7 separate regions of the Homo sapiens genome follow, and regions 1, 2, 3, 4, 6 and 7 are each linked to region 5. The links come from fine-mapping of genetic effects on gene expression. A gene starts in region 5. Each other region holds a variant in brackets. All regions are shown on one strand. Distances are from middle to middle.

Region 1 (4,263 bases), 170 kb after region 5:
TTGTGAGAAAAACAATATAAAATAATAAATTGGCTAAGTAACTTGTGATATGTAAATTAATATGATTTTAAGTACCTATTAATATATGAAAACCATATGAGCATAAAATTGTTTATAGCAATGCTAAGTTTAAAAAGAAGGAAAAGTCTACATATAATATGATTAAAATGCATAAAAATATGTAAAATGTAACTAAAGACTAGAAGGAAGCCATGGAGAAATTAGAATAATTGTGCTTGAGTCATGAGATTTTGAACGAAATTTTCAAAAAAAGTACAAGATTTTATTTTTAATGGAAATTTCTTTGTAATAAAGTATTTTAACACAAAGTATTCTCTTCAGCAACATAAAATTATTCTAAATAGAGCAGATTATGTGTTTCTTCAGACGCAAACAGGGTTTTCACCTCCTTATTTTTACCCTCAATCAGATAGGTAGCATTGTGTGTGTATTCTTAGCATCTGTATTCTTACAATTCTTGCAGTTCAATCTCCCTAGTGTAAAAAGTTCCTTTTTTAGTTTCTCCCCCAAATATGAAAACAATCAAGAAGCTATAATAATCAAAACAGTGTGGTATTGACATAAGGATAGACATACAGATCAATGGAATGGAACTGAGAGCCCAGAAATAAAATCATACATCTGTGTTCAATTGATTTTTGACAAGAGTGCCACCAAGACCATTCAATGGGGAAAGGATAGTCATTTCAACAAATGGTGCTGAGACAATTAGATAACCACAAGCAATAGAATCAAGTTGGATCCCTAACTCACACCATCTACAAAAATGAACTCAAAATGAATCAAACACATAAATGGAGGAGCAAAGACTATAACTCTCCTAGAAGAAAACATAGGGGTAAGTCTTCATGGCCTTGGATTAGGCAATGATTTCTTAGATGTGACACCAAAAACCACAAATGCAAAAGAAACAATAGATAAATGAGACCTTTTATCACAATTAAAAACTCTGCTTCAAAGGACACCTGAGGTGGGCAGATCACCTGAGGTCAGGAGTTTGAAACCAGCCTGGCCAACATGGTGAAACCCTGTCTCTACTAAAAATATAAAAATTAGCTGGGCGTGGTGGCACGTGCCTGTAGTCCCAGCTACTCAGGAGGCTGAGGCAGGAGAATTGCTTGAACCCAGGAGGCAGAGGTTGCAGTGAGCCAAGATTGCATCACTGCACTCCAGCCTGGGTGACAGAGTGAGACTTTGTCTCAAAAAAAAAAAAAAAAAAAAGAATATAAAAAGATAACCCAGAAAATGGAAGAAAATACTTGCAAAGCATATATCTGCTAAGACACTTGTATCCAGAAGATTCATTTGGAACATTACTAATCTAAAATTTCAAAATCCGAAATTCTCCAAAATTCAAAGCTTTGAGTACTGATATGAGATAGTGACACCTTTGCATTCGAATGGGTCAGTGTAGACAAACTTTGTTTCATGCACAAAATTATTTTAAAATATTGTATAAATTACCTTCAGGCTATGTATATAAGGTGTATATGAAACATAAATAAATTTTGTGTTTAGACTTGTGTCCCATCCCCAAGACATCTCATTATGTATATGCAATTATTCCAAAAATCTGATAAAAATTTGAAATCTGAAACACTCCTGGTGCCAAGCATTTCAGATAAGGGATACTCAGACTGCATAAAGAACTATTACAACTCAACAACAAAAAGACAGATAATAAAATTTTAAAATGGGCAAAGAATTTGAATAGTAATTTCTCCAAGGAAGATACACAAATGGTCAATAAATACATGAAATAAATGCTCAGCACCACTAGTCATTAGGGAAGTACACATCAAAACCATAATGAGATACCACTTCATATCCACTAAGAGAGCTATAAAAATAATAATAATGAGAATAACAAGTGTTAGTGAGGATGTGGAGAAAGTGACTCCCTCATACATTGTTGGCAGAAATGTCAAACAGTAGT[TC/T]CGGTAGTTCCTCAAAAAGTTAAACATGAAGTTACAGTTAAGACCAAGCAATTCCACTCCACCTAGGAATATACACAAGAGAATTGATAACAGATATTCACACAGAAACTTGTACATAAATGTTTATAAGAGCATTATGCAAAACAGCCAAAAAGTTGAAACAACCAGCCGGGCGAGGTGGCTCACACCTGTAATCCCAGCACTTTGGGAAGCCGAGGTGGGCGCATCATGAGGTCAGGAGATTGAAACCATCCTGGCTAACACGGTGAAACCCTGTCTCTACTAAAAATACAAAAAAATTAGCTGGGCGTGGTGGCGGGTGCCTGTAGTCCCAGCTACTCGGGAGGCTGAGGCAGGAGAATGGCGTGAACCTGGGAGGTAGAGCTTGCAGTGAGCCGAGTTCATGCCACTGCACTCCAACCTGGGGGACAGAGCGAGACTCTGTTTCAAAAAAAAAAAAAAAAATTTGACACAACCCAAATGTTCAAAAGATAAATAAGGCCCTGGGCGCAGTGGCTCACGCCTGTAATCCCAGCACTTTGGGAGGCCAAGGCAGGCAGATTACTTGAGATCACGAGTTTGAGACCAGCCAGGCCAACATTGCGAAACTCCTTCTGTATTAAATTAGCCTTCTGTACAAAAATTGGCCAGGCATGGTAGTGTGTGCCTGTAGTCCCAGCTACTCGGGAGGCTGAGGCAGGAGAATGACTTGAACCCAGGAGGCAGAAGTTGCAATGAACCAAGATTGTGCCACTGCACTCCAGCCTGGATGACAGAGTGAGACCCTGTCTCAAAAAATAAAAAAGAAAATAAAAATAAAATCAGAAAAGATAAACAAAATGTGGTGTAAACGTAAAATGGAATATTTTTAGCAATAAAAATGAAGTGCTGATATACACACTACAATATGAATGAACCTTGAATATATTGTGCTAAGTGAAAGAAACCAGTCAGAAAAGACCTCAAAGTATCTGAGTCCATGTATATGAAATGTCCAGAACAGGAAAATCCACAATGAGAGAAAGCAGATTAGTGATTGCCAGGGGAAGGGAGGAGGAGGAATGGGGACTGACTGCTTAGGGGTAAAATATACCTTTTTGAAGTGATGAAAATGTCCTGGAATTGGATATTAGTAGTGGCTGCACCCCATTGTGAATAAAGATAACTGATTTGTACACTTTAAAATGGTTAAAATGGTAGATTTTATGTTATGTGAATTTTATCTCAATTTTTTAAAAAGCTTTCTAAGTATCTGAAGACTACAAGAGGTGCATATTTTTTATTCACAAAGAATTAGTAAGTCTTTCAATGACAGAATTTCCATCTTTGAGTATTGTGTTTGAAGGTTATTTTGTCTCACTGTTTTTCCCCCAGATACTTCTAAAGCTGCTGTGCTCATAACTAGGGAAGCAGAAGAGGAGATCGTCCTCCTGCCCTGGCAACCAGGGATGATGGCACGTGCCTAGGCTCAAGCATGGCAATTCTCCCATCCAGAACTTGGAATCTTCGGGGTATGTCACAAAGACCCAGGGTCAGTTTGCAAATTATTCCCAGAAGTTGTGGCAGCATCAAGAGTCAGGCAGGGGCAGCAGCCCACGTTCAGCTGGAATTCTGTGGCTTAACCCAGGGGTTTTCTATGTGTCATGAGAGATAACACAACACTCTCACCAACGAAGTTGAATAAATTATATTTAGGACTCACAAGCTGGTGAGTTCTAGGAGGGAACAGCTTATGTTGGAAGGCAACTAAGGTGGTTTAGGGGCGGCTTTGGGCTTTTATTATGGCTAGGGGATGAAGTTGGGCTGGGGCTGGCACATGGGCTAGACGGGGTACTATCTGAGGTTCCTGGACATTGACAGGGGCACAGAACATCCACGGTCTTCTTAACTTGGTTGCCCAGGTGTGGGGCAAGCAGGGAAGGGGAGTGGAAACCTACCAGCTGGCGATGGACAAATGTCGCAAATGGAGTGAGCTCCTTTATAACATGCCTTGTGTGTTATTCCAGGTTCTCACTTCACAGAGCTGATAGTGTGAGATCTCAAAGAAACTGCCATGAGAGTCCTTTTCATATTAAGTTAACCAGACTTGATTTCTGTAGCTTGCAATCAAGAATCTTAACTGATGCCAAAAGAGTGAGGAATTTTGAAAAACACTGACATGCCATTTCAGATTAAACAAACAGACATGCAAACAAGCACAGAAGAACTGTGAGCACAGTTCCAAAGCAATGAGACAGATTTTCACAAATGCGTATTCTTTCTGCAGTGAGGACTACAGCAAATCTCAGAGGTCACAATGTTGGGA
Region 2 (4,263 bases), 44 kb before region 5:
AGGTCCAGCTCTTCCCCTGCTGGTGGAAACCCACATTTGTCTGAACTGATATTTCCTGATGACATTCCTGTTCCTTCTACGGCAGATCCATATCTCAATATCTGCTATGGGAAATATACAGTACAGTACTGATTTGGCATCAGAACTGCCTTATTTAATGCGCATGACCTTACGGTCAAGAATTTATTGGCTGTTCTTTGTGTTCAACATTGCCAGGCCCTGTTTTAATTTTCATAGTCACGGGAATCCCCTGTGTATCAACAGGAGGGTTTAAAGTTTGTTCGCTACCACAAAAAGTGCTCCTTGAAAACACGTCCCTCTCCCCACTCCCAACCCTTAGAATCGTACTTTTAAACTGTGTTAAATCTGTCAAAAAAAAAAATGTGACAGTGAAGGCAACATTATGACTAATCTTCATCTTTGTATCTCAGTATCGCTGTGGGAACCTTGGAAATATCAATTCCTTAGGAAATGCTATGGCAGTAGCTGATCCTTGCCTAATCTCCTGGCAAAATAAAATCAGACAGTTTCATACAATATTCTTATATCCACATCAGATCTATCACTAATAGTTTTCTCCAAGGGAAGCCAGGATATGAAGTCATGCATAACAACTCCTCAGTCTAGGAGAGAAGCCAGAGCCAGCTCTGTGGCTATCCCCTACTTTGCCCCTTCCAAAGTGGTTTCTAGAGTTTCTTGGTCTTCAGGCCCAGAAAATCACTAAGGGAGAAACTACAGCACCATGGCTACAGAGCTGGCACAGCTTCCCACTCCACAAACTTCATGAAATGTATGTAAATAGACAAAACCAAAAAATACATAAACATGTGTATGTATGAGCATATATATATATTCATATACATATGCACACACACACACATACTTACTTAAAGTAACAGCCAAGATTAAAAGAAAGAACAATTCTCAGGTGCCAGATACAAAGAGGGAACTCCACACACAGGCAGTACAAGGGATCCTTCAATACTAAGCGTATATTTACTACAGATTTCAGTAGACGCACTTTATCAGGCTAAGGATGTTTATTTCTATTTCAAGTTTTCTAAGGTTTTGTATTTCAAAATCATTTTTGGCTATTAGGGTTTATTAAATGCCTTTTCTACATCTATGGGAAAAAAATCATATCATGTTTCTCCTTTACTCTGTGAATGTGATGAGTTATGTTAATAGCTTTTCTTAATTAAGCCATCCTTGCACATGTTGTATGAACTTATTTTACTACACATTGCTGGATTCAGTTTTACTCATATTTAGTTTAAGATTTTTACATTTACATTCAAATAGAGGCTAGCCCATAATTTTTCTTTCTTGTCCTGTCCTTGTCCAATTTGGATATAAAGGTTAAAATAGAATTATAAAATGACGGCCGGATACGGTGGCTCCCTCCTGTAATCCCAGCACTTTGGGAGGTCAAGGCGGGCAGATCACTTGAGGTAGGGAGTTCGAGACCGGCCTGGCCAACAGGCCAACCCCATCTCTACTAATCATACAAAAATTAGCCAGGCATAGTGGCCTGCGCCTGTAATCCCAGCTACTTGGGAGACTGAGGCAGTAGAATCGCTTGAACCAAGGAGGCGGAGGTTGCAGTGAGCCGAGATGGTGCCATTGCACTCCAGCCTGGGTGACAGAGTGAAACTGTGTCTCAAAAAAAAGAAAAGGAA[T/C]TATAAAATGAATTGAGTAACTTTCACTTTTTCAATTATCTCATGTAATTTTTTTTTTTTTTTTGAGATGGAGTCTTGCTCTGTTGCCCAGGCTGGAGTGCAGTGGCACCATCTTGGCTCATGCAAGCTACGCCTCCCGGGTTCACGCCATTCTCCTGCCTCAGCCTCCCGAGTAGCTGGGACTACAGGAGGCGCCCACCACCACGCCCCGCTAATTTTTTTGTATTTTTAGTAGAGACGGGGTTTCACCGTGTTAGCCAGGATGGTCTCGACCCCCTGACCTCGTGATCTGCCCGCCTCGGCCTCCCAAAGTACTGGGATTACAGGAGTGAGCCACCGCGCCCGGCCTTATCTCAGGTAATTTTTATAAGAGAAACATTATGTGTTCTCTGAAAGATTGCGAAAACTACCCTGTAAAACCATCAAGGACCAGTTGCTGTATAAATGAGATCAGTAAAGATCTGGTTCTGATAAATCTAGGACCAACATTTCCAGGACACAGACCCAAGAAACAGACTGGAGGATTAACAAGTCAATTCATGGTACTTACACCAGCTATTTATGATGTGAAGAAAAAAAGAAAGTAGAGCCATATCTCATACCGTGTAGAAACACGAATTTTCAACAGAAAAGAAACACCCATTAAATTTTAAATTCATCAGAAAAAATAACGAGAAAACTTTATGAACTTGGGGTAGGAAATAATTTTTAAAATAAGGGCTAAAAAATAGCAATATAAAGAAAAAGATAAATCTGACTACTTTAAAATTTAAAACTTCTGCCTCATAACATAAAAGTCACCATTAAAAAGTGAAAAAAAACAAACCTTGGAGTGGCCAACTCACATCTTTGCAACCCGCATTACTAATAAAGTACTGGTAGGCAGAATAAAAAAGAGTGCCTATAAATCTAAGAAACAGACAAATGACCCCATTTTTAAAATGGAAATGAACAGGCAACTCACAAATGAAACAAGAAAGGCCACTCAACACATGAAAAGATTATTAAAATTATGAATGATCAGATTGTAAATAAAACAAGATTTCATTTCATACCCATCAGATCAGACTGACAACGTCAGATTTTGTTAAAGATATAGGGAAATAGGAACTCTCTCACACTGTTTGTGAGACTGTAGATTGGTAAACTCACACACAGGACAACAATGTGATGAATCTTGTAAAGTTAAATACACACATTCCTATAATCCAGTCACTCCATTTTTGGGTATATGTCCTTGAGCAATGTTACTTAAATAACTAGTAATGAATGAATGGCTAAGTCACTTGAGTGGGTCACTAGCAGTTTACTGACCAGCAGTTTATTTTAACAAAACAGAACAGAACAGAAAATATGAAAATACATAGAAAGGATTTGTGAAACTTTGTTTTGTAAAACTTTTGTTTCAGATGTGTGTTTGTTGGGTCATGATATTAATGTTTCTTATTGTGGGTCATGGTTTTTAAAAAAGGTTAAAAATTACTGCTCTAGAATATGAGTCAACAAACTTTTCCTTAAAGGGCCAGATGGTAAATATTTTAGGCTCGTGGACCATAAGGGTTCTGTTGCAACTACAGAACTCTGCTGTTGTAGCTGGAAAGCCACCATAGAAATTAGTGGCATGTTTTCTAATAAAGCTTTATTTACAAAAACAGATGTCTTGCATGTGGGCAATCAGTTACTGGCTGGTCTTGACCAGCCTTGTCCAATAGAATTATAATGCAAGCCATATATGTAATTTTAAGTTTTCTGGTAACCACATTTAAAAAATGTAAAATAAATGGGAAAAAATAATTATAGTAATACATTTTATTTAACATAATGTATTCAAAATATTGTCACTTTAAGCAGTAATCAGTATAACCTATATCAATTATTAATGATATATTCCATATGTTTTTTTCATCCTAAGTCCTTAAAATGTGGCATGCATTTTATATTTACTCACATTGCAATTCTGACTAACCACATTTTAAGCTAGTGGCTACCATACTGTGCAGTACAGAGCTGGAGAAACTCTTATAAGTGGAGAAAGGTGTTCACAACGTTACAAATAGCAAATAACCTTCTAAACTGTTGAACGGTGCTTCCACAAAGGAATGAAAACATTGTGGTATAGTCTTTTGGTGGGATACTTTATAGCAGTAGAAAAAAATGAACTGGATTTTAGGGTAGCAATATGAAGAAATATTTTAAAATGCTGAGTATTAAAAGTAATTTACAAAAGGCTCAAGTAAAATGTGATGCCATTTGTATAGAGATTAAAAACATATAAGGATATATACATGTTTTACGGAGCACATAATAAAATGTAAATGATACTCATCAACTTCAAGACAGTGATTGCTCTGGGTAGCAATGGGAGGTTGAAATGGGAATTGGATAGGGAGGGATCTTCCACAGTAGCAGTAACATTTTATTTTTAAAAAATCTAAAGCAAATGGCAAAATGTTAATATTTGAAAAATCTTAGGGAACACCTGCAGGTCAGTTAAATTATTATCTGAACTTCACTGCATGCTTGGAATATTTGATACACTAAAAATGAAAATTTCTAGTGAGAAAGCAAATCACAGGGCCTGAAT
Region 3 (4,263 bases), 250 kb after region 5:
ACTCTTTGTGTGCCTGCGTCCTAGTTTTCCATGGCCGTGAGACAATGAATCTCGGGTATTTACTCCAGATTATTACCCCAATAACGCCACTTCATCGTTAGTGTATATATATATATATAGAGAGAGAGAGAGAGAGTAATAAAATAGCTAGCACTGACTGAGTACTAACCTTGAGCTGTATATCAAACTCTTTATTACATATTACATTTTATTACATTTTATTAATGTAATAACTCATTATTACATTTAACCCCTATAGTAATCCTATGAGATAGATATTATTGTCATTTCCAGTATATAAATGAGACAACTGAGCCTCAGATATAGTACTTTATGTAACGAACGTGGCATGGCTTCCTTCAAAATCTGCTCTCTTGACCCTTCTGCTGTCCTGAATATCATTAAGAAACACAAATATGTTATACAACTAAAATAAAACCATCATAAAGCAGCTTATATAACCAAAGGCTTCTCAGCCTCCACATACTGGCTGTTTTTTTTAAGCAATATTAAATGAAAGAATGTTCTAATAAAATCAGAAATGTCATATAATCTTCCGATGCTCCTAAAAATGGAATGTGAATTATGGTCAAACTATTAATAATATATTAAACTATCCAGAGAAAGAAGGCAAAGATAGAGGTGTGACTTGCTTTTTCTCTGGATAGATAAGATCGTCAGACCAAATGAAACCATACAAACCACACATCAAGATGTTTGACAAGCTCTTCCTGGCTCCTCCAAAATGTAATTTTGGCAGCAACTTTGGACAGAACATCAATTCAAATACATAAATAAAAGGACATGGATTATCACAAAGAGGACAGCCCAGAACTCAAATATTTTCTATTGACATTGAAAATAACTTAAAAAGTGATGATTACTCTGGAAATGTTTGCATTGTGGACCTTAATTTCTCTGTGTAATTCCCTCTGTGAGGAAGCAACTAGCAAGGGACCTAACTGGGTGTAGAAATCAGGAAGCTGTGCTGAGGAGGTGATATTCAAGTTTCTCATCTTGAAGGAGGATTAGGAGTTGGGGAGGGAGGGTCTGGGGGAAAGAAGTGTATACACAAAAGGCTGAAGGCAAGAGAGTGCACATGAGGTGAAACCTGCAATCGTTTGGTGTAACTGGAGGTTAGTGTCTGAGAAAGGGCGAGCTGTGGAGGAATTTATGCCTATGGTGGCAAGAAGCTATTGAAGAGTTTTGCTAAATGTTAAGTGTATCTACTGTTTCCCAGGCTTTATTTAAGGATTCATGAAATCATGTTTGTAAAACCCATTTGCAGCCCTTAAAAACGAATACTAAAGAAATACCAGGGTGTTTACATGTTTTCTTGCAGATGACAAATGCAAAACACCATCCATAAGGTTTTTAGGAAAAAAACTCGAGGATTTCATTCTAATTGTGAGGAGACTCCCAGACGTGTCATTATAGCTAATCCCATGAAGCCCAAGTCACAGATAAAAAAATTACTTTAAATGGCAAATATGCACTTATTTATAAACAGATTTGATAGAATCACACTTCCAAACACGCATTTGCTTATTATTCCCTGTAAAATGACAAAACTATCACCTGATTGTTCATTAATTCTCCTGGAACATTCCAAACCTACCCAGGTAACAACTACTAAGGGTTCACAAAACATTTTTAGCTATTGATTTCCCAGGCACGCCACAAGCGATGAACAACAGCCATGATCTATGAAGCCGCTGCAATGAAGCAAAGCTACAGCAATTACTAAGTACTTGAGTGAAGTATGGAAAACTTCACTGTTGGATAAAAAAATTAAACCTAGTTTCTGTACCCAATGGGTCATGCTAAGTTACATGTTACATGACTAAGTAATCATGACTTTGCCAAAAAGGTACAAAATAGGCACAAATGGCTCTCATCCCTCCTCATCCTCTTCTTGTCTGAGGACAGTGATGAATCATGCTGACCACCTCTCTCTGGAACTTATCACTGCTATGCCTTGTTAAAGCAAACTAAATATGGCCTGGGAAGGACTCCATACTTCTGTATTTGAGTCCTTGTGGACGAACTGCAACCTACCTTAGTGTGCAGACAAGATTGAAACCCTAATTTAGGATTACAGCCTGTAACAATAGCTGAGTCTCAGCCAATCTCAGCAGCCACACTTCAACCATTCATACAGTGCTGAGTGTTCAGACTGTGTTCAAATAACACAAATGCCAAGCTGTAACCAATCCA[C/G]CTGTTTCTGCACCTCACCTCTGATTTCTGTACGTCACTTCCCTTTTTTTGTTCTGACCATGAGGTACCCCTGGAGCCTCTCTGAATCTGCAGTAATTCTGGGGGCTGCCTGATCCGTGAATCATTCATTGCTCAATTAAACTCCTTTAAATTTAATTCTGCTAAAGTTTTTCTCTTAACAGCCCATTTATCTATTCAACACATTTTATTGAGCTCTGTTCTGGTCACTATGCTGGGCAACGGAAGAGAGAAATTAATAAGACTTAATTCCTGCCTTTGAATTGCTCACAGTGAGATGGGACAGGCATGTAGATTTTTAAAAAAAGAATGCAATACAGAGTCAGGACTAACAGAGCCATCGGAATATACAAGGCCTTATTTGTAACTTTGAGATATATGTTGTCCCCAGAACCAGGGTCATAATAAAAAATAAACAGGAATTCCCAGCTGCCAGCTTTCACTAAACAGTCTCTTACCCAGGACAACAGTTAATCTTTAATAGGAAAAACAGGAAGCATCCTATTCAAAATCCTGGTTGAAGGATGCAGACTGAATATTCATTAGGGTGGGGGTGAAGGCTGAGGGGAGCAGGAGTGAGAAAATAGCAGGAAGCCAGGAACACCCATGGTATGAGAATTTCTTGAATTGTTGAGATGTGTTTCCTAGACAGCTTCCACGGAGGAGGAGGGCTGTTGAAGATGTTCTCTTGTTAGATGCACTGTAACAATGACGACTAGTTTAGATCATAAAATATTCTTTAGTTCCTGACCATTTTCAGTTCACACACTCTGTATACATCTTACCATTGAGGCATATGAGAGTGAAAGCATCACTGGCTTTCTGTACTGTCACCTAAAGTCACAATTTTTAAAACACAGAGGCTGTATGAAACCATAATTATGATGTAGTGCAGCCAGGAGAACTAACAAAGAAGAATACGCTTTCTTCTTGCTCTTGTTGTTTCTCTTGTTATTAATCCACTGCTTTTCTGCTATTGACATTGGGCCTGGCTAAATGGTTGGTGGACAGGTAAACCTAGAGGCAAGCTTTCAGAGAGGGCATCATATATATACAGTAGTGCTAAAACACAGGACAAGAAAATAGTTCTAGAAAATGAGGGTTTGTCTTCCTCTCTATTTCTCTAAAAGAGGAAGGAAGAAATGCATATTAGCAGTGTAATTAAGTCAGATGTCTTGCTGAATTAAGACATTATCTCTGAATGCAGCCCCTCTAAGGGACAGCCAGGAAATTTGAAAGGTGACCTAAAAAGAGGATTTTATTGTAAGAACTGAAAAATACTTGCTGGCAATATTTAAGTAGAAGTTAAATGCATTTGGCTGAGCTGCATAAAGGAAATCGATGTTCTCTATTAGCTAAATTCGAGGACATTCACGTCTGCTTTCCCAGCCCTTGAGAATGTATGAGGTCCAACAACCCAGTTCTTTCAAAGTCAGTCACAGCTTCTCACTTCCCTTCTTCTCCTCCCTCCTCCTACACACTCTGCCTCCAGCCTTCATCCTCCTAACTCCCAGACAAATGCACAAACATCTGTGTTCAGGTTCCTTCCCTCACATCTTCCTGGGAGGATGGGAGCGGCAGTCTGACTGCCTCACAGTACCACTCTGACATTGGTCACTCCTTCAGAGTCTCTTATCGGTGTACAGAGGACAACCAACTCCAAGTAAGGGGGCCAGGGGGTACACATGACGCAGATGACACTTCCTATTCTAGTATCACCTCCTACTCCTCCCCAGACAACACAGGTGAAGTCTTGAGGGGGAAAATTAGTCATAGAAAGCGGGCAGGAGAGGCATTGTGGGTGCTGAGTAAAGTGGAGAAAGTGAGAAGAAGGGGCTGGGCACGGTGGCTCATGCCTGTAATCTCAGCACTTTGGGAGGCTGAGGTGGGATGATCACTAGAGGTCAGGAGTTCAAGACCATCCTGGCCAATATGGCAAAACCCCGTCTTTACTAAAAGTACAAAAATTAGGGCTGGGTGCGGTGGCTCATGCCTGTAATCCCAGCACTTTGGGAGATCAAGGCACGT
Region 4 (4,263 bases), 76 kb after region 5:
AGAATCTGGCTACCACCGGGAGATCAGTTGCCCTTTTTTTTTTTTTTTTTTTTTTGAGACAGAGTCTCCCTCTGTCACCCAGGCTGGAGTGCAGTGGTACAATCTTAGCTCATTGCAACCTCTGCCACCAGGGTTCAAGCAATTCTCTTGCCTCAGCCTCCTGAGTAGCTGGGACTACAGGTGCTGACCACCATGCCAAGCTAATTTTTGTATTTTTAGTACAGACAGGGTTTCACCATGTTGGCCAGGCTGGTCTCAAACTCCTGATCTCAAGTGATCTGCCCACCTTGGCCTCCCAAAGTGCTGGGATTACAGGTGTGAACAGGTGTGAGCCACTGCGCCCAGCCGAGACCAGTTGCCTCAATTGTCAGTTTCCTCCTCTCTCCCCTTCTCAGGTCTATCATGGCAGAATTTGTCCCAGAACATAAAACTACAGAACACCCCAGTTTCGGTGTGAGAAAAGAGCCTAGGCATCTCCTAATTTAATGGGCTTCAAATGGTTTGGCTCAGTTGTCCTAAGCAATAAAAATAATTTGAGTATGTAACCTCAATTGATGTATATTTATTCATTTATAAATGACATACTTCTGTACCAACATACTTTAAGACATATACAAAAATTATATTTAAAAAGAAAAATAAATAAAATGATAATATTTTCTCCTGTGCCTTAATGGATTAGCTTTGTTCCTTTTGGGATATGTGAATCTGTTTTGGAGACAACTTACCTAATTCAGCCTGATCTGCTAATCTCCTCTGTAACTCCCCACCAAGAGGAAATTCAACCTTTTCATGAACACTTGGAGGGACACCCAATCCATTTTTGGAAACATCTAGGCGTTTCTTGATTACCATGCTCTGGATGGCCAAATCGGGGGGTTTTCATGCAGTATCACACCTGGACTTCGAGCCACAAGTGAACACTTCTCTGGGCGCCTCACTTCTGGCTCTCCCTGGATCTCACTGCAACCTGAGTGCCAGAGCTGTGAAGACTGCAGCAAAGTCCTCCAACTGCCACGGTAAATATTATCATTGCCTCTGGTATGCAGAAAAGCAAGCCGAGCCGCATTTGCTGCTTCCAGGTGGCAGACACAGAAATGAGAGCAGGGAGGGAGGGGCTGGGAAGGTGTCTGGGAAGAAAGAGATCAATAAGACCTCACTAGTGTGCAGTATTTACTGTAAACAGCCCAAGGTGGTTTGGGGTTGGGGTGAACTGTCAACATAGAACAGTTCTTTCTCAGGGACTGTGGGAGCAGGTGTTCTAAAAGGAAGGATGAAGATAGCAGTTGCAGTGGGATGGGCAATGAGACCCTGGGCTCAGGGAAGTCACTGAGGGTTAATGTGGCCGGGCAGCCAACGTCACAGCACACGAGGCCCCTGCCACATCTTACCCACACATTTCAAGATCCTGTATCGCCACAGTGTGTCATTACTTTGAGACCATGGACTACTTTCTCAATTCTTCAGCAGAGAGGTTTTTTCCAAAGCACACAAATGCTAGTGGTGGAGCTGGTTTAAGGCCAAGAATCCTCAACTGACAAAGAGCTCAGTAAGCCCTGGGTAGGATAAAAAATGCAGGTGTGTCTTGCCCTAAAACATCTCAGGATGAAAGAACTCGTTGGAAGTGCCTCTCCATCCAGATTTTGTCTAAAGCGTTTAAAGGCGGCTCTCTTTCAACAATTAAGCTGGTGTGGGATGGAAGAGCTTTCCTGCAGTTAGGGAAAAACCTTCTCCCTCTTCCTCTTTCCCAGTTCCAGTTGCTTTTGAGTGACAGGCTAACCTGAGCCCTGAAGCCAGATTCAGAATTACTATGGCTTTGAATTTGATCTCTTATTGTTCTATACTGAAAGAGCAATATTCTTTTTGAGGTGAGTGAGTTCCCCATATTGGAAGCTGCTCTGGGTTTGGGGTAGAATCTTCAGGATCCAAGGGAAGAGGACTGAACTCAAAGGAAAAACAACTTGGGTTGTAGTTGGTGGTGAGACTACGCTAACTTTGTTTTTTTTTGTTTGTTTGTTTTGCTCGCCAAGAAAGCCTCTCCTAATTCACCAGTTCCAGAAG[G/C]CTGCCTGCTTCCCTGGCCACAGGGGTAGGTATGTATTCAGGTGTGACCAATCATTCTGTCCTGACGTTAGTGATTGACCCAAGGGTCAAACTGGGTCTTGCCAAGGTCCGATAAATATAAAGTAAATATCCATGGTTGCTCCATAGGAGGCTGTGAATTTGGGGCTCTTGGGCACCGTGTTATTACCTGACATGGGGAGACTTGGAATGAGGCCGACAGACAGGTGGCAGGGATGAAAGATAAATGCAGGCGGGCATGAAGCTGCATGACAGGGAGAGTCCTGGGAGTGTGGAGTCGACCACAACTCCTCGCTCTCCCCAACCCCATGTGAAACCCATCAGCGAGGTCTTTCATCTCCACCTTTGAAAGAGAACCAAATTCTGATGATGTAATGACATCTCACCAGGCCCACTTTGACAATCTTAAGTCCAGAGGGCAGAAGGTCTCTCCTAGAAAACAACAGTGGTGTTCTATCTGGTCTCCCTGCTCTCTGCTTTGCTTCCGCATAGGCTAGTTTCCATATAGCAAAGAGGTCATTTGGTTGTTGTCTGCTTGGCTAGAGAGCTTTGAAACAGTCCTTACATTCTGTCGCTCCTCTGCTCAAACTCTCCAAATGATTCCCATCTCACTCACAGTAAAAGCCAATGCCTTACGGTAGTTTGCCACTCCCTGCAACCTGCTGTCCACCTCTGCTCACGGTCCTCCCCACTGTTCCTTGAACAGAACATGCACGTTCCCAGCTTCACGTCTTTGTATTGGCTATTCTATCTGCCTGGAAGATGGCAGGGCTCACCCCCTAAGCCCTGCAGGCCTTTATTCAATGTCACCTTAGTAGTAGGGCCTTCCCTACCCCACCACACCCCTCCCCTCCACTCACACAATTCTCTGTCTTCTGACACGGCTATTTTTTTTGTAATTTTTGCACACTATATATTTATTTTTCTGTTTGTTGTTGATGTCATAATTTTCATCACCGTGTAGCTGAAACCTGAAACGCTCAGCTGAAACACTGAATGGCCCCTGAAACCTAGTGACTACAATCAGTTGCAATCCTGGCATTCCGGGTGCTGGTCCCAGCTGTTCTTTCCTTTATTCTGCTGGTTTCAACAGCGGCCTTCCCAGCTACCAGAGCCTATTAATTCCCACTTTTGCACAGGCTAACTTGACTTGTGTTGGAGTACTGCCATTTTTAAACCTGGAAATTTGGAGGCGGATCTGTAAAATGTCTAAAGATGAAATACATTGGTTTCCCCCCCCCCGCCCAAGCTTTTGATATTGGTTCAAACTATGGGCTTTCAAGATGCCAATAGCTGAACCCAACACAAATGTAGAGCTTATTCATAGTTTTCATATCATTGTCTCTTGTTAAATTGTACATTCTTAAATTTTTTTGCTACATTCTTAAGCCTGAGTTTTGGTATCTCTTAGGGTCAGCATTCTCCTGTGGGAATTTATCTCTGAAATCAAACCTAATTAAGAGAGTACATGGGGTTCAATTTAGATAACTGCTTACAGTCAACTTTTTCAGATGGGTAACTCATAAAATGAGGAGTACGGTGGTGTTAACACTCCATTTCCTTATCATCGGGGTAGTGTAGGGCTGAAGTGGAATGACCGACAAGGAAACATCTGGAATCAGCTATTTTGTGGCAGTAATTACATATCCTCACCCACTTCTGCATGGAAGCTTCCTCTAGGCTGCAGGCCACTGGTATTCCACCTTTGCTGTACCTTAAAATCACCTGCGTTGAGTTGAAAACTCCTTATATCCAGGCTGCACCCTGGACCAATTAAATCAGATCTCTGGGGTAGGAAAAACATCAGTGAGAACAACAGCAGGTAGTCCTGAGCATATACTGCCTATCAGGTTCCAAGCTATGTGCTTTACATGAATGATCTCATTTAATCCTAACAATTCTTCTATAAGGCGGTATTCTTACTATCCCACCTAAACAGAAGGGGAACTAGATAGAGGTGCACAGAGTTTAAGTAGATTTTCCAAGGCTTTTTGCAGGGAGCCAGTGAAGAGAACCAGTTACTAATCTAGACAATCTGACTTCAGAGGCAAAGCTCTTTCACAATTTGCTTTTTATTTAAAACATGAAATGTACATAATCAATTTTATTATATATTATATATAATATTATTATATTATATATAATATATATAAATTATATATAATATATATATATTTTTTGAGA
Region 5 (4,212 bases):
AAGTAAAAGATGGTGAGAAACACAAGTGGCACCCACAAAGCCTTGCCTCGCCTTGCCTGGTGCAGCAGTGCCAGCTCTCCACAGCATGGGGAAGGCACTTCGCAGCCCACATTCCTTACTTCTGAGGGGAGGCAGCCCCCAGAATTATGCAAATCCTCCCCATTTCAGTAGGAGGCTGCAGTGTCAGATTAGAAAAAAGAGCTCAGCATTCTTTCTGATCCAAGTCATGAAAAAAATGTCTTTGCCTCTGCAAACTTCTGCACTAGATTTGTGGCTACAGTTTGCAAGACTGAAGCTGTCAGATACACTCCCACCCCATTTCAAAAAAGAATCTGAAGAATCAAGGTGGCCAGATCTTTAAGATTAAATATTTTGGCCCAAAATACCCCCTCAGACTTACATCAGAAGTTGCTTATGCCTTATTCTGAAGTGACAGAATTGCAGAAAACATTCACCTAAAATTTTTTTCTGTATGTTACAGTTAAATTAATGCAACGCCAGTAAAAGGAAAGAAATATGTGTGGAAAGTGTCTGAACTTCAGCACACTCCACTGGCCAGGGCTGACCAGGCAGAAAGGAGAAAGTGACAACTTTACCACCCACTAGCCCCCTGCCTCCCTACTCACGCAGAGGGTAAATTACGATATTCACCCAACTTTTCCTTTTCTTTTTTCTTCCTCCAGTGCTGGAGGAAAGAAAATCTCAGAGGGAGGAATGTGGTTTTGCACCCACTACAGTCGAAACCAACCAGACCTCAGGAGAGAAAAATAACTGCGGAATTCCCTAGGGCTTTCTGTCAAATTTTCTTCTCAGAAAGGGAAGGGGAGAGGAGTTGTTAAGAATAGTTCAGGCCAGTGATCAGGAAAGCCTTCTGAGCCTGACTCCGCACTGAATGCATCGCCAAAACTCCTCGCCCCTAGACCATTGGGCTTTGCTATCGGCTCTGCAAAACCATGTGCAGGGAGAGCTTACCTGAGAGAAACGCACACACCGTGAGCTGGCGCTCTCCGCTGCGAATGCCCGGCCGCCTCCATGCCCAGCAGAGGATTCTATGTTCTAAGTGTGTGTGTCCCCGGATACCAGCAAAGGTTAATAACGTGCTCACAGCATGCGTTTCAGAGGGCTCAGCCAGGGCTCGGGGAAAAGGGCATCATCTCGTTGCCTCTGGAGCCCCGCTGCTGCATACCCTGCACCCCCAAACCATCCCCCCGGGTCCTGGTCCCAGCAGCCAGGCGGCCTTCCGTCTCTCCCCCTTGACAATACTCTAGCGGTGGAAAGCAGTCCTCAAAGCGCTTCAGCCTCCGGCCGCAGACAGAGCAGCAAGACCAGAGAAACCATCCTAACAGTCGGTCCTCCCTCCTGGAACTCGTAGGAAAGTTTCCCCGTTTTAAAGAGCGCGATTCTCGAATGAATCAAAAACACCCTCCAGCTCCTCGGTCCTCCCGGCCGGGCGCCTCCCTGCACCTCGGGCACCACCCGGGGCTCACGCGGCCCCGGCACTGCCCACTTCCCGAGCGGTCGCCTGTCACCCCGGGGGTAGCCCGCTCGGCGATCGCAGCGCCCCTCCAAAGCTCCCCTCTGCGACCACGCTCGCCAGACAAAAAGAGGCCGAATTTGGAGAGCGCGTCGCGGGCTCACCTCTGGGCTGCGCTCCCCCGGCCCCTCCGTCGGTCTCCGAGCCGCCAGCCGCCCGGCCGGAGCATTGTTCGCAGAAGGTCTGCGCGCGGTGCGTGCCCGGCCGCGGGCGGGTGGCTTCTGCCTGGGCCCGGCGGCCGGGTGGCAGCTGTGAGCGCGGCTCCGCCCCCTCCGCCTCCGGTGACGCCGCCCGCCCCAGCTCACGCCGCACCTCCGCAGTCCCTGCCGCCGCCCGGCCCCGCCTGGCCCGCGCGCCCCGCCGCCCGGCTTGCGCCTGCCGCTCCCACCCGGCGGTCTCCTACCCCCAGGGCCCCGACTCCTCCAAAGTCTCCAGGCCCCGGGACTCCCTCTCTTGCCCACCCTCCCGCCCCGGACCGGCAGGCTCCGCCCCCAGCCCCAGACTTGGCGCGGGCTGACCCCCGAGCCCAGCACCCGTTTGCACCCCCTCCTCGGTGGGGACCCTGCACAGCTCTGGAGGGGCGAGCTCTGGCGTTGCAATCCTCCTTTTGCCATCATGCGTGTATAGGTGCCCGGCATCACTTCATCCAGCCGGCCCTGCGGGACCCTGGGAAGAGAGGGAGAAGGAAGGGGAAACGAGGAAGTGTGGGGTCGGGAGTGGAATACAGGTCAGGGTCCGAGGCGGGCTCTGAAAGCCACGTGAGCACAGCGAGCCTCAGCTCTCCCTACCTCTGGGAAGAGGGTGGCGCCGGAGGGAGCAGGGCTGGAAGTCCCGGTGGCGGATTCCAGGTTCCGCTCAGTCCCTGGACTGCAGGATTCTGGCAAATTGCTTAACCTCTTTGAACTTTAGTTTTCTGGATGTAGAATGCAAGCGTTGCACTGCAGGGACCTGGCCTTCTACCATGCTGGGACATCCAAGTCTTCCGCAGGCCAGTAATACACCTGTGTTTACACCGTTTCCAGTGAGTCATTCACTGAGATAGAACGAGTTCGAGATAGTCCTCGGGCTAAAAAAATCTTTTCACTGGGAGTATAATAGCTTAAGACCCAGTCAGTCCTGTAGCTTGACCTGGGTGTTTACTCGGGGAGCCAGGGCTATGGTCACCTCCCAGGGCCATGCCGGGTGGGAAGAATTCAGTGAAATGGAATAGGAAGAGGACCCCCCTCCCCCACAAAACAATACCTGCGGCTTCTCTCGCCCTCTATCCCCTCCCCAGGAAGGCAGTTTATTTTGACTCCAGTGAAGGTCCTCTGCCAGTCAGCCTGCGAGCCCCCACCCACTGAGAGGAGGAAGATGGGCCCCCACCCCCACCCCCAGATCCCTGGCTCTCCTCTTTGCTGCTGTGGGTGTGGACAGAGAGGGAAGATGTGTATTTGAGGTTTGGCTTCTGTGTGAGGAAAGGGAAAAAAGGATCCAGGGAATTCTTCCTCATGTTCCAGTGACACCCATGCCTCCTAAGAGGACAGAATCTGGGGGAAGCTGTAGAGGGATGGGAGTGCAATGGACATTCCTTAAGGACCTACCCAGCGCTAAGCAATCCTATGAGGAGAGCATCATTATCCCCATTCTACAGATAAGAAAACTGAGGCTCGGGGGCCTCACAATTTGCTGGGGTTCCTCAGCTGAAAAGTGGTAGTACTAAGATTGGAACCAAAGGCTGTCTGGCTTCGCTGGTAGGCAAGTCTACTCTGCCACTCTGCCCTTGCCAAGTGCAGGTAGTCCAGCCCTATTTTTCTCTCTCCCCTAAGTGGAGAGAAATCATTTGAACAAATACTGGCCGTGCGCGGTGGCTCACACCTGTAATCCCAGCATTTTGGGAGGCCGAGGCTGGCAGATCACCTGAGGCCAGGAGTTCAAGAACAGCCTGGGCAATGTGGTATAACCTCATCTCTACTAAAAATACAAAAATTAGTCGAGTGTGGTGGTGGGCGCCTGTAATCCCGGCTACTCAGGAGGCTGAGGCAGGAGACTCACATGAGCCAGGGAGGTGGAGGTTGCAGTGAGCTGAGATCGCACCACTACACTCCAGCTTGGGTATCAGAGCAAGACCCTGTCTCAAAAAAAAAAAAAAAAAAAAAAGGAAGGGAAACTTTGGTTACACTTCATGAGCATCCAACAGAGCTGAAAGATCCAGACCCTACCAAGACTCAAGAGGGGAAGATGTTGATTAAACAGGTAGGTACAAAGTGGTCTGCAATGGAGAAATACAAAAGTGACTTCAGAAAGTGTGCAATTCATTTACACTGGGAGAGGGCAAACTAAGATGTTTGAGAAGTTCCTGGTTCTCAGGATTCAGGCTAAATGTTTCACTTCTTTCCTCTGTAAGAGAGACATTGACCTCACAGAATAAAGGCTGTGCTGAACACATAAAAGAAGCACTTACTTTTGCACTTTATTTTCTTCTCTTTACCTAACTTATTCTTTTTTTTTTTTTTCCTGGGATGGAGTTTCATCTTTCAATCAGGCTGGAGTGAAGTGGCAAGATCTTGTCTCACTGCAGCCTCCACTCCCCGGGTTCAAGCCATTCTCCTGCCTCAGCCTCCTGAGTAGCTGGGATTGCAGGCGGCCACCACCATGCCCTGCTAATTTTTCTATTTTTAGTAGAGACAGCATTTCAC
Region 6 (4,263 bases), 58 kb before region 5:
ATTAGCTTATTCTTTGCACTTTTCTAACTGGAAAAAAAAGCGATGTCTTAGGGCAGGTGATGAGAGAAGATAGCTCAGGGTCTCCCTCCTGACTCCCAATAAAAGCCCACATTTATAGAAGGGCCAGGGTCTCAATAGGTAATCAAGGAACAGCAAAAGAAGATGACAAATAGGGCCACAGGAAGGACTGGAGTTCATGGTAGAGACTCCAGTGGCCCAAATGGGTGCAGATGGCTCAACTAGCTCACACAGAGCTGCACTCTGACAGTGCAATACAGTGTGGGTAGCAAGAGGCCTGATCCAGCATCAAAGGTTAAAGAGCTGTGCTGCCTTGAGCTAGTCACTTAATGTCTCTGAACTTCATTTATCTTAAATGGTAGGGACATAACTTAGGCTTTGGAGACAGACACAGAAGAGCTCAAATCCATTCCAGCCACCAACTAGCTATGGGCAAATTACTTAACCACTTTGAGCCTCAGATCCTCCATCTGTAAAACCTACCTAACCTGTAGGATTACTGTTAGGATTAGAGGTAAGAGTCTAGTTGTAGAGTGAATGCTCACACAAATGATATTATTACTATTATTGTTCAAGATGATTCCTAGGTCGAATGCTCCTTCTGGATCTAACATTAGAAGAATGACCTCATTATCCATCTCCCTCACTACATCATAGCTCTATAAGGAAGCTTATATTCACACCTACATACTCAGATTGTGGCAAAGTACCTGGCCTATAGTAGACACTCAATAAAAACCTGGTCAATAAATGAATAAACTCTCCGTTGCACTAAAAGGCAACTGTTTTCTTAACTCAGCTAAAGCACAGAATGTGTCTTATATTCATACTACAAATCTCATTGCACCATGTCCTGGGGCAGAGAGAGAGTGAAGCTGCTGAGCACTAAGTGTTAAAAGAATGCTTAGGGGTCAGGGGTGGTGGCTCACACCTGTAATCCCAGCATTTTGGGAGGCCGAGGTGGGTGGATCATCTGAGGTCAGGAGTTCAAGACCAGCCGGGCCAATATGGCAAAACCCCATTTCTACTAAAAATACAAAAATTAGCTGGGTACCGTGGTGCACACAGATAATCCCAGCTACTCAGGAGGATGAGGCAGGAGAATCGCTTTAAAATGGGAGGCGGAGGCTGTAGTGAGCCAAGATTGTGCCACTGCACTCCAGCCTGGGCAACAAAGTGAGACTCTTATCTTACAAGAAAAAAAAGAATGCTTAGGAATCAACTCCCCTCCTAATGCCCAGACAGGTGAAATGACTTGCTCAGGCCACAGTTCTGCCCAAGCCAGCACCAGCCAGTGGCACAGCAGAATGCAAGGAGGGAGTGGTACCTACTTTCACAGCATAGGTGCTGCCGGGGTCCTCAGAGCAGGTGGCACAGTAATAAATGGCATCCCCCGAGTCACAGCAGGGCTTGTTACAAGTCAGCTTGAAGAGCGACCAGTTATTCTCATTGAAGTGGAGCTCCTTTTTCTGGCCGCCCATGAAGAGGTCCTCACATTTGGCTACAAGGCGGGCCAGGGACTGGGTGTAGAGTCCCCCCAGCTTGGCATAGGTGCCCTCCTTGCTGCTGATGTTGCTCAGGAGACCGTGCAGCTGAAGCTGGGTGCTCCCGGTGGAGGCTTGACTGGACACGCTCAGCTGGGAGGATGAGGCGGAGGGGGCCCCTTTGCACTGGAGGCCAGGGCTCCCGCAGCCGCCTCTGTTGCCCGCCAGCCCTGCTGCCGGAAGCCAGTGGCCACTGCCTTTGAAAGCTTTCTCCAGAGGATCGGAAGAGGAGAAGACAGGATGGTGGCGGTTCCCGGGGCTCAACGAATAGCTAAAGTGAGATTCGTCGTGGACGTTGGTTTCCGAGTGGCTTAGGTTCAGCTTGGGGCTTGCTGTTCCGGGCTTGGGGGAGCCTTGGGTCCAGAAGAAGCCATCCGGTGAAGAGGCTGCCCGGCTCACTATCTTTTTCTGGGGGAGTGGAGGGGGCTGCTGGGGGCCACTGGGGGACACGTCCTCAGTGGAGCCTGAAGGAAACGGAACGGGAGCAAAGAGCTTCTTCCCGCTGTTGGTGGGCGAGTGAGCCAGCTCAGACGAGGGACCTGAAGAGGAGAGACAGAAACCATAAGACCAAGGCCAGTGCCACTCAATTCCAGGGTCCTGCAGACTTGTTTCCCTTTATTTATTTATTTATTTGGTCAGAGCAATTAATTTTATGTTACTTCTTTTCTATTTCTCTAATAGACAATATATGCACAATGGAAAAAATCAAAATGCAGAAAAGGTATAGATTGACAACTAAGTCTTCCTCCTACCCTGTCCCTCATACTCAGCTCTCTCATCAGAGGAAACCACTGTCAGTAGTGTTTCATGCATCCCTCCAACAATCCAAACAAATGCGTGCCTGCACGCGTGCGCACACACACACACACACACACACAAATTACATAGAAAAGAGCAA[A/T]CGGTGGCTACTGTTTGGAATAATGCTTTTCTTTCACATCTTGGAGAGATTTTTAAATCAAATATGCAGATCTATTTAATTATTTTAAACAGTCTCACCATAATATATCACCATATGCAAGTATCATAATTTAACCATCCCTTTTTGATGGACACTTAAATTGTTTCCAATATTTTGCAAACAATGCTGCAACAGCAATAACAAACTCGAACATGTGTGGTTTCCGTGGAATTTTTTAAAAGTCAGGTTTATAGAGGGTGTAACTGGCCAATGGTAAAATTCTCCCTTTTGGCTGGGTGCGGCGGCTCATGCTTGTAATCCCAGCACTTTGGGAGGCTGAGGTGGACGGATCACTTGAGCTCAGGAGTTTGAGACCAGCCTGGCCAACATGGTGAAATCCCGTATCTACTAAAAATACAAAAATTAGCTGGGGGTGGTGGTGCGTGCCTATAATCCCAGCGACTAAGGAGTCTGAGGCAGGAGAATCGCTTGAGCCCGGGAGATGGAGGTTGTAGTGAGCCAAGATTGCGCCACTACACTCAGCCTGGGTGGCAGAGTGAAACTTCATCTAATAATAATAATAATAATGGGTTGCAGCCCTAAGGAAATGTGTACTTAGGATGTGTGCCCCTCATTGAGTTCTCCATGCCACATCACCCTAAGGGAAGAGCATGGAGTGTCTCTATGCCTTTCCACACCTTGGCAGTAGGACCAGAAAACAACAAAAAAAAGCAGAACAAAAGCATAGGAGAAGACAAGGGGTAGAAGGCCCCAAAGGAAGCAAATTATGAGTCTTGTGTCACCTCACTCAGGTGCACAGGACATTTCTAGGGCTGCTCCTGAACAGTTAATAACCTTCTAGCTCACACTGAGCCCTTCTCTGCTTTCTCCAACCCAAGAGGGAACAGAATAGATCCCTGAGGCTCAAACACCAGTTGCAAGCCACATAGATCAAGACTGGGTCTCTTTATTTCTGCTGCTCCACAGGGAGGAGGGTCTCTCTAGGGAGCAAGATGGATGGCCATGGGCTGACATTCATGCCCCAGCCTCAGTGACCGAGGCAGCATTAGTGAGCGACAGCAGGGCACAACCTTGAATGCAACGCTGACGGGAGGACAAACTCAGTGCATGCAACCTGTTGAACACAGGAGCTGAGAACCAATGGATTCATGCAAAGAAAAGCCCTGGGGAGCTGAGCAAGACTATGGGGTCCTTGCACCAATATCCTCCTTGGCTCTATCATCTATCATAAGACTCAACAGGGGCTGGGCACGGTGGCTTATGCCTGTAATCTCAGCACTTTGGGAGGCCAAGGCGGGAGGATCACTTGAGCTCAGGAGTTCAAGACCAGCCTGGGCAAAATGGCGAACCCCCAACTCTACAAAAGATACAAAAATTAGCTGGGCGTGGTGGTGCATGCCTATAATCCCAGCTACTCAGGAGGCTGAGGGGAGAGGATCACTTGAACCTAGGAGTCAGAAATTGCAGTGAGCCGAGACTGTGCCACCGCACTCCCACCTGGGCTATAGAGTGAGACTGTCACAAGTGAAAATGAAATTCAAGAGGGAGCACCGTGTTTCTTAAGCTCTCCTTGCCCACTTTCCCATCTGTAGTAAGCAATCCTTGTTTCCCTGTGGTTTATCAAGATCATAGGGAGTTGCCCTTCCCATTTGCTAATGATAGGCGGGGCCCCTGGCAGCAAGGCTGAGTGAGTGATTTATACCCCTTCCAGGAGGGCTCAAGTTAATAATAAATCAAGCAGTGGTGGTGCAGTCTGGACCAGTCACTTTTACATGCCCACGA
Region 7 (4,263 bases), 130 kb before region 5:
GTGATTCTCCCACCTCAGTCTCCTGAGTAGCTGGGACCACAGGCATGCAACACCATGCCCAGCTAATTTTTGTATTTTCATTAGAGACAGGATTTCACCATATTGGCCAGGCTGGTCTTGAATTCCTGAGCTCAAGTGATTCACCCACCTCAGAATCCCAAAGTGCTGGCATTACAGGCATGAGCCACCACACCCAGCCAGAACATTCTTTTATTATCCCTTTAGGATGTATAGAATCCATAGTGATGTTACCTCTCTTATTCTTGACATTAGTAATTTGTGTCTTTTCTCTTATTTCCTAATAAGACTGGCTACAGGTTCTCATTTTAATTTTTCTCCTTAACAAAACAGCTTTTGGTTTTATTGATTTTTCCTCATTGTTTTATTGTTTTCTATCTCATTGATTTATATTCTTCATTATTGCCTTTCTTCTGCTTACTTTGGGTTTACTTTGCTCTTCTTTTACTTCTTTCTTCAAATGGAGGCTGAAGATATTGAGTAAGATGTTTCTCCATTTCTAATATAGGTGTTTGGTGCTTAATTTCCCTTAAACATTGTTTTAACTGCATCTCATAAATTTTCTTTTTCAACTATTTACTATATCTTTTTGGGATATTTTAATTGTATTACTTGGTTTCCAAATGCTTGGGGATTTTCTAAATATCTTTTATTTATATCTACTTTATTTCCATTGTGATCAGAGACCACGCTTTGTAGGATTTTAATCTTTTCATATTCATTGAAACGTAATTGATGGCCCAGAATATGATCTATCTTGGTAAAATTTCCCTGTACACCTTGAAGGAAATCAAAAGCTTTCTCTCCAAAATGTTGAGGATTATTAAGTTAGAAAGACGGAAAGCTCAGGGCAGCAGTATGCCTCAGCATCTGTGTGCCTGGCAGCAGGACAGCAACCCTTCCTTACCAGAGATGGCAGTTGTTTGTCAGCCCAGAGAAGGTACCAGCAGGCACCAGAAGAATCAGGGAACAGATTTTACCATCTTCCCACATTTTCCCACCTTTTCCACAAGACTGTAACTGCTTTCTTCTTTGTCTTAGAACTGTACAGGACACAGGGCTCTTTGTTAAAATACTATTTAAGCAAGGCCTGTTGTATCTACCAAGCTAGGGACAGGGGTTACAAACACGTCCAGGGCAGAGTTCCTTCCCTCGAGGAGTTCACAATATGTGTGAGAGACATGTACATTCACAGTGGCCATGCAAAGTGATAAGTGGCTTTTGAAAAGGTAATGTGTACACTGCTATGGACCCTGAGGGAGGGGAGAATGACAGACAAAGCAGAAGATTCCAGAAAACCTCCAAAATAATGGGAGCTTTGACTCAGCCCAGAAGGACCTCCTCTTAGCAAGTCTCCTAGAGGCCAGTCTGTTTAGAGCTGCTGTCTGTTACATTTTCTTCGGTCCCTTTACCTAACGTCTCCTTCAGCTCCCTTAGCCTTGGCAAAAGGCAGAGGAAGAGGAGAAAAGCATTTCCATCAATGGAGTCATTTTGCGTCACAGGGCACTACATGTGGTGATGTGGCTAGAACGGTCCTTGTAAAAATAGCCTGAGCAGCTAATATCCAGTCAGCTAAACGGACCCCATTGCCATTTAGTGTCCGCACTTGTTTCAGTAAAGGCTGAAACCAAGTACAACATATGAAGTCCACAGCCTCCA[C/T]GTGTGTACACCAATGCCTTCCTTCCACAAAACAGGTACTCAGTGATCATTTGCTGCTTGGAATTCATATCATCAGCTGAGCTTAATCAAACAAAATCACCCTTCAGAGACTACTAACCCATGAGGCTATAAAGTAAGTCCATTGATTTTTGTTCATCACCTAAGCTTCCATAATGGAAATTAATGAAATTGAATTTTAAATGAATGAATTTAAAATGAATGAAATGGACATTAATGAAATTATCTCCTTTGGGAAGGTTCACCCAATATAAGCTGCAACTTTGGGAATAAAATGGCAAAGGTAACAAAACAGCTGTATTGGTTGTATTAAAGTGGGCAGAGGAATGAAAAAGAAACAGGCTGATTACGGAAGGAGACAGTGCTGATCTTGTGCCTGTATCAGAGAGGGCATCCTCCCTGGCAAAAAAGGAAGGGAGAGAGGCTGAGAGCTCTCTATGCCTTGAGTGGATAAAGGCGGCACAGATTCTCTTAAGTGGCTCCAGAACTAAGCAGCAAGTGAAGGGGCTGAGATTGGGACCAGTTCCAGCCAAAGGGCTCTTCATCACTGCCAGCTGCCACACAAGTGGCCACTTCTGGAAACAGGCACCTGATCAGGAACTCCCTTCCTGCAACCTACTTCTCTTTTGCACATTGAGGAAGTATTCACTGGGCACCCGTCATGTCTTGGGCGTTTTGCTTTGCTTGAGGGACATGCCCTTGAACTGCAGTTCCCCTTAGCCTACTTCTGGATGAATGTGAATTTCCTCTATTCAGTACATCCAAAACAACATACGGACATGAAACGGATAGTAGGAATAAGAATATAGCTGCTATAGGCCAGGTGTGGTGGCTCATGCCTGTAATCCCAGCACTTTGGAAGGCCGAGGCAGGTGGATTACTTGAAGTCAGGAGTTCAAGACCAGCCTGGCCAACACAGCGAAACTCTGTCTCTACTAAAAAGACAAAAGTTAGCCAAGCATGGAGGCATGTGCCTGTAATACCAGTTACTCGGGAGGCTGAAGCAGGAGAATCACTTGAACTCGGGAGGCGGGGGTTGCCAAGATCGTGCCACTGCACTCCAGCCTGGGTGACAGACCTAGGATGCATTTCAAAAAAAAAAAAAAAAGAATACAGCTGCCATTAAACTTGGTTTGTTTGCACTGAAATGCATTTACTGATCTCATGGATAGTGGCTATATCAGTCCATTTTCACACTGCTGACAAAGACACACCTGAGACTGGGAAGAAAAAGATGCTTAATTGGACTTATAATTCTACATGGCTGGGGGTCCCCAGAATCATGGCAGGAGGAGAAAGGCACTTCTTACACGGTGGTGGCAAGAGAAAAATGAGGAAGAAGCAAAAGCAGAAACCCCTGATAAACCCATCAGATCTCGTAAGACTTATTCACTATCTCAAGAATAGCACAGGAAAGACCAACCCCCATGATTCAATTACCTCCCCCTGGGTCCCTCCCACACACATGGGAATTCTGGGAGATACAACTCAAGTTAAGATTTGGGTGGGGACACAGCCAAACCATATCAGTGGCTTTTATAGGAAGTAAAAGGAAGGCTTTAAACTTAAAAATAATTTACTAATAAAATATAATTTTATTAATTTTGCAATCGGGGTTCCATTGCTAAATAGTTTGAAAACCACTGATCTATGCAAACTTTCTACCCCATGTAGGAATCTTCTCCCAACGGACTTTATCAGTGGTCATTGTTCTTGTTCCTCCAGTGACAATGTAGCCCTTCTATTTGCAGAGGTTCTTATAGAAAATTTTTCTTTTTGCCTTTGTTTCTTCATGTGTGGATTATTGCCATCCTGCCACTCACTGTGGTTTCCATGGAATCTTGTGGAGGAATCTGTTTATATATTTTTTTGGCTCACACATCTGTTATTACAAAAGCTCCTCTACTTTTATGATCTAATTAGGCTCTGCAAAGGAAACAACCAAAAAACTTAGTGGCTTAAAAGTAAAGCAATATATTATATCTCTTGATTTCATAAGTTAACCAGTTAAGTTTTCCTGATGGTCTTGCCTGGGATCATTGTAGCAACTGCATTTAGTTGGCTGATGAGCTGGGGGCATAGCTGGGGTTCCTTGGTTCTCCTCTATTTGATCTTTCCTTTGGTAGCCTGAGCTTCTTTGTAGCATATTGACCTCAGAGTAGTTGGACTATGTACATGGCAGCTGGCTTCCAAGAGGGAGAAAGAAGAAACTGTCAATCTTAAGTCCTGGGCTCGGAGGTTCAAGAGTGTCGTTTCTGTTATATTCTTTTAGGGGGAGAAATCAAAGCAAGTAAAGCAAGTTAAAAGATCTGGCCAGGTTCAAGGGGAAAGGAAATAGACTTCATTTCTTAATGGAAGAAACGGCGCATGCAACCAGTGGTAGAAGGAATTGCTGGTGAACATGTTTGCCTACCACCAACCATACCTAAAAATTTGTAAATAAGCCAATTTCCCCCATGTAGGTTCTTATGGCTACAAGAGGCTTGTGATTGTGGTTCCTCACTGCATTATCATCCAGTAGGACAGTGAATTGTTCTTCTAAGAGCTTTACAATCAGAGTCTTTTCCT

Direction of the effects. Positions count from the first base shown, and alleles are read on the strand shown. Sizes are in standard deviations (SD) of each study's normalised expression. Not every link is listed here.
In carriers of allele T in region 1, the expression in fibroblasts of the gene that starts at base 1,757 in region 5 tends to be lower than with TC alone (small effect, 0.11 SD a copy in GTEx).
In carriers of allele C in region 3, the expression in tibial nerve of the gene that starts at base 1,757 in region 5 tends to be lower than with G alone (small effect, 0.37 SD a copy in GTEx).
In carriers of allele C in region 4, the expression in thyroid of the gene that starts at base 1,757 in region 5 tends to be lower than with G alone (moderate effect, 0.63 SD a copy in GTEx).
With allele T in place of C in region 7, the expression in monocytes after R848 of the gene that starts at base 1,757 in region 5 is lower (moderate effect, 0.67 SD a copy in Quach 2016).

Evidence for each region.
Region 1: its variant is fine-mapped to the expression of PRAG1 in fibroblasts (GTEx, PIP 0.96).
Region 2: its variant is fine-mapped to the expression of PRAG1 in monocytes (TOPMed, PIP above 0.99).
Region 3: its variant is fine-mapped to the expression of PRAG1 in tibial nerve (GTEx, PIP above 0.99). The same link has a PIP of 0.9 or more in subcutaneous fat.
Region 4: its variant is fine-mapped to the expression of PRAG1 in thyroid (GTEx, PIP above 0.99).
Region 6: its variant is fine-mapped to the expression of PRAG1 in whole blood (INTERVAL, PIP 0.93).
Region 7: its variant is fine-mapped to the expression of PRAG1 in monocytes after R848 (Quach 2016, PIP 0.95).

Annotation. Positions count from the first base shown.
Region 1 is chr8:8,557,869-8,562,131 of GRCh38, forward strand. It overlaps LOC105379224 (a long non-coding RNA gene), which reads left to right and starts at 3,493. Exons shown (of 3, transcript NR_188124.1): 1 at 3,493-3,666. The variant TC/T (reference allele first, on the strand shown) is at 1,958.
Region 2 is chr8:8,340,469-8,344,731 of GRCh38, forward strand. The region is part of intron 3 of PRAG1 (PEAK1 related, kinase-activating pseudokinase 1); the gene reads right to left. Among named protein-coding and RNA genes, the nearest start is that of PRAG1, 44 kb to the right of the region's middle. The variant T/C (reference allele first, on the strand shown) is at 1,680.
Region 3 is chr8:8,637,689-8,641,951 of GRCh38, forward strand. No RefSeq gene overlaps it. Among named protein-coding and RNA genes, the nearest start is that of CLDN23, 62 kb to the right of the region's middle. RefSeq lists a silencer at 2,291-2,340. The variant C/G (reference allele first, on the strand shown) is at 2,218.
Region 4 is chr8:8,460,392-8,464,654 of GRCh38, forward strand. It overlaps LINC02950 (long intergenic non-protein coding RNA 2950), which reads right to left and starts at 996. Exons shown (of 3, transcript NR_186598.1): 1 at 729-996. LOC107986913 (a long non-coding RNA gene) reads left to right here and starts at 34. Exons shown (of 4, transcript XR_001745796.2): 1 at 34-1,019; 2 at 2,031-2,090. RefSeq lists an enhancer at 868-1,162. The variant G/C (reference allele first, on the strand shown) is at 2,062.
Region 5 is chr8:8,384,683-8,388,894 of GRCh38, forward strand. It overlaps PRAG1 (PEAK1 related, kinase-activating pseudokinase 1), which reads right to left and starts at 1,757. Exons shown (of 6, transcript NM_001080826.3): 1 at 1,639-1,757. RefSeq lists a silencer at 1,460-2,139.
Region 6 is chr8:8,326,361-8,330,623 of GRCh38, forward strand. It overlaps PRAG1 (PEAK1 related, kinase-activating pseudokinase 1), which reads right to left. Exons shown (of 6, transcript NM_001080826.3): 5 at 1,350-2,101. Among named protein-coding and RNA genes, the nearest start is that of PRAG1, 58 kb to the right of the region's middle. The variant A/T (reference allele first, on the strand shown) is at 2,461.
Region 7 is chr8:8,258,609-8,262,871 of GRCh38, forward strand. No RefSeq gene overlaps it. Among named protein-coding and RNA genes, the nearest start is that of FAM85B, 33 kb to the left of the region's middle. The variant C/T (reference allele first, on the strand shown) is at 1,678.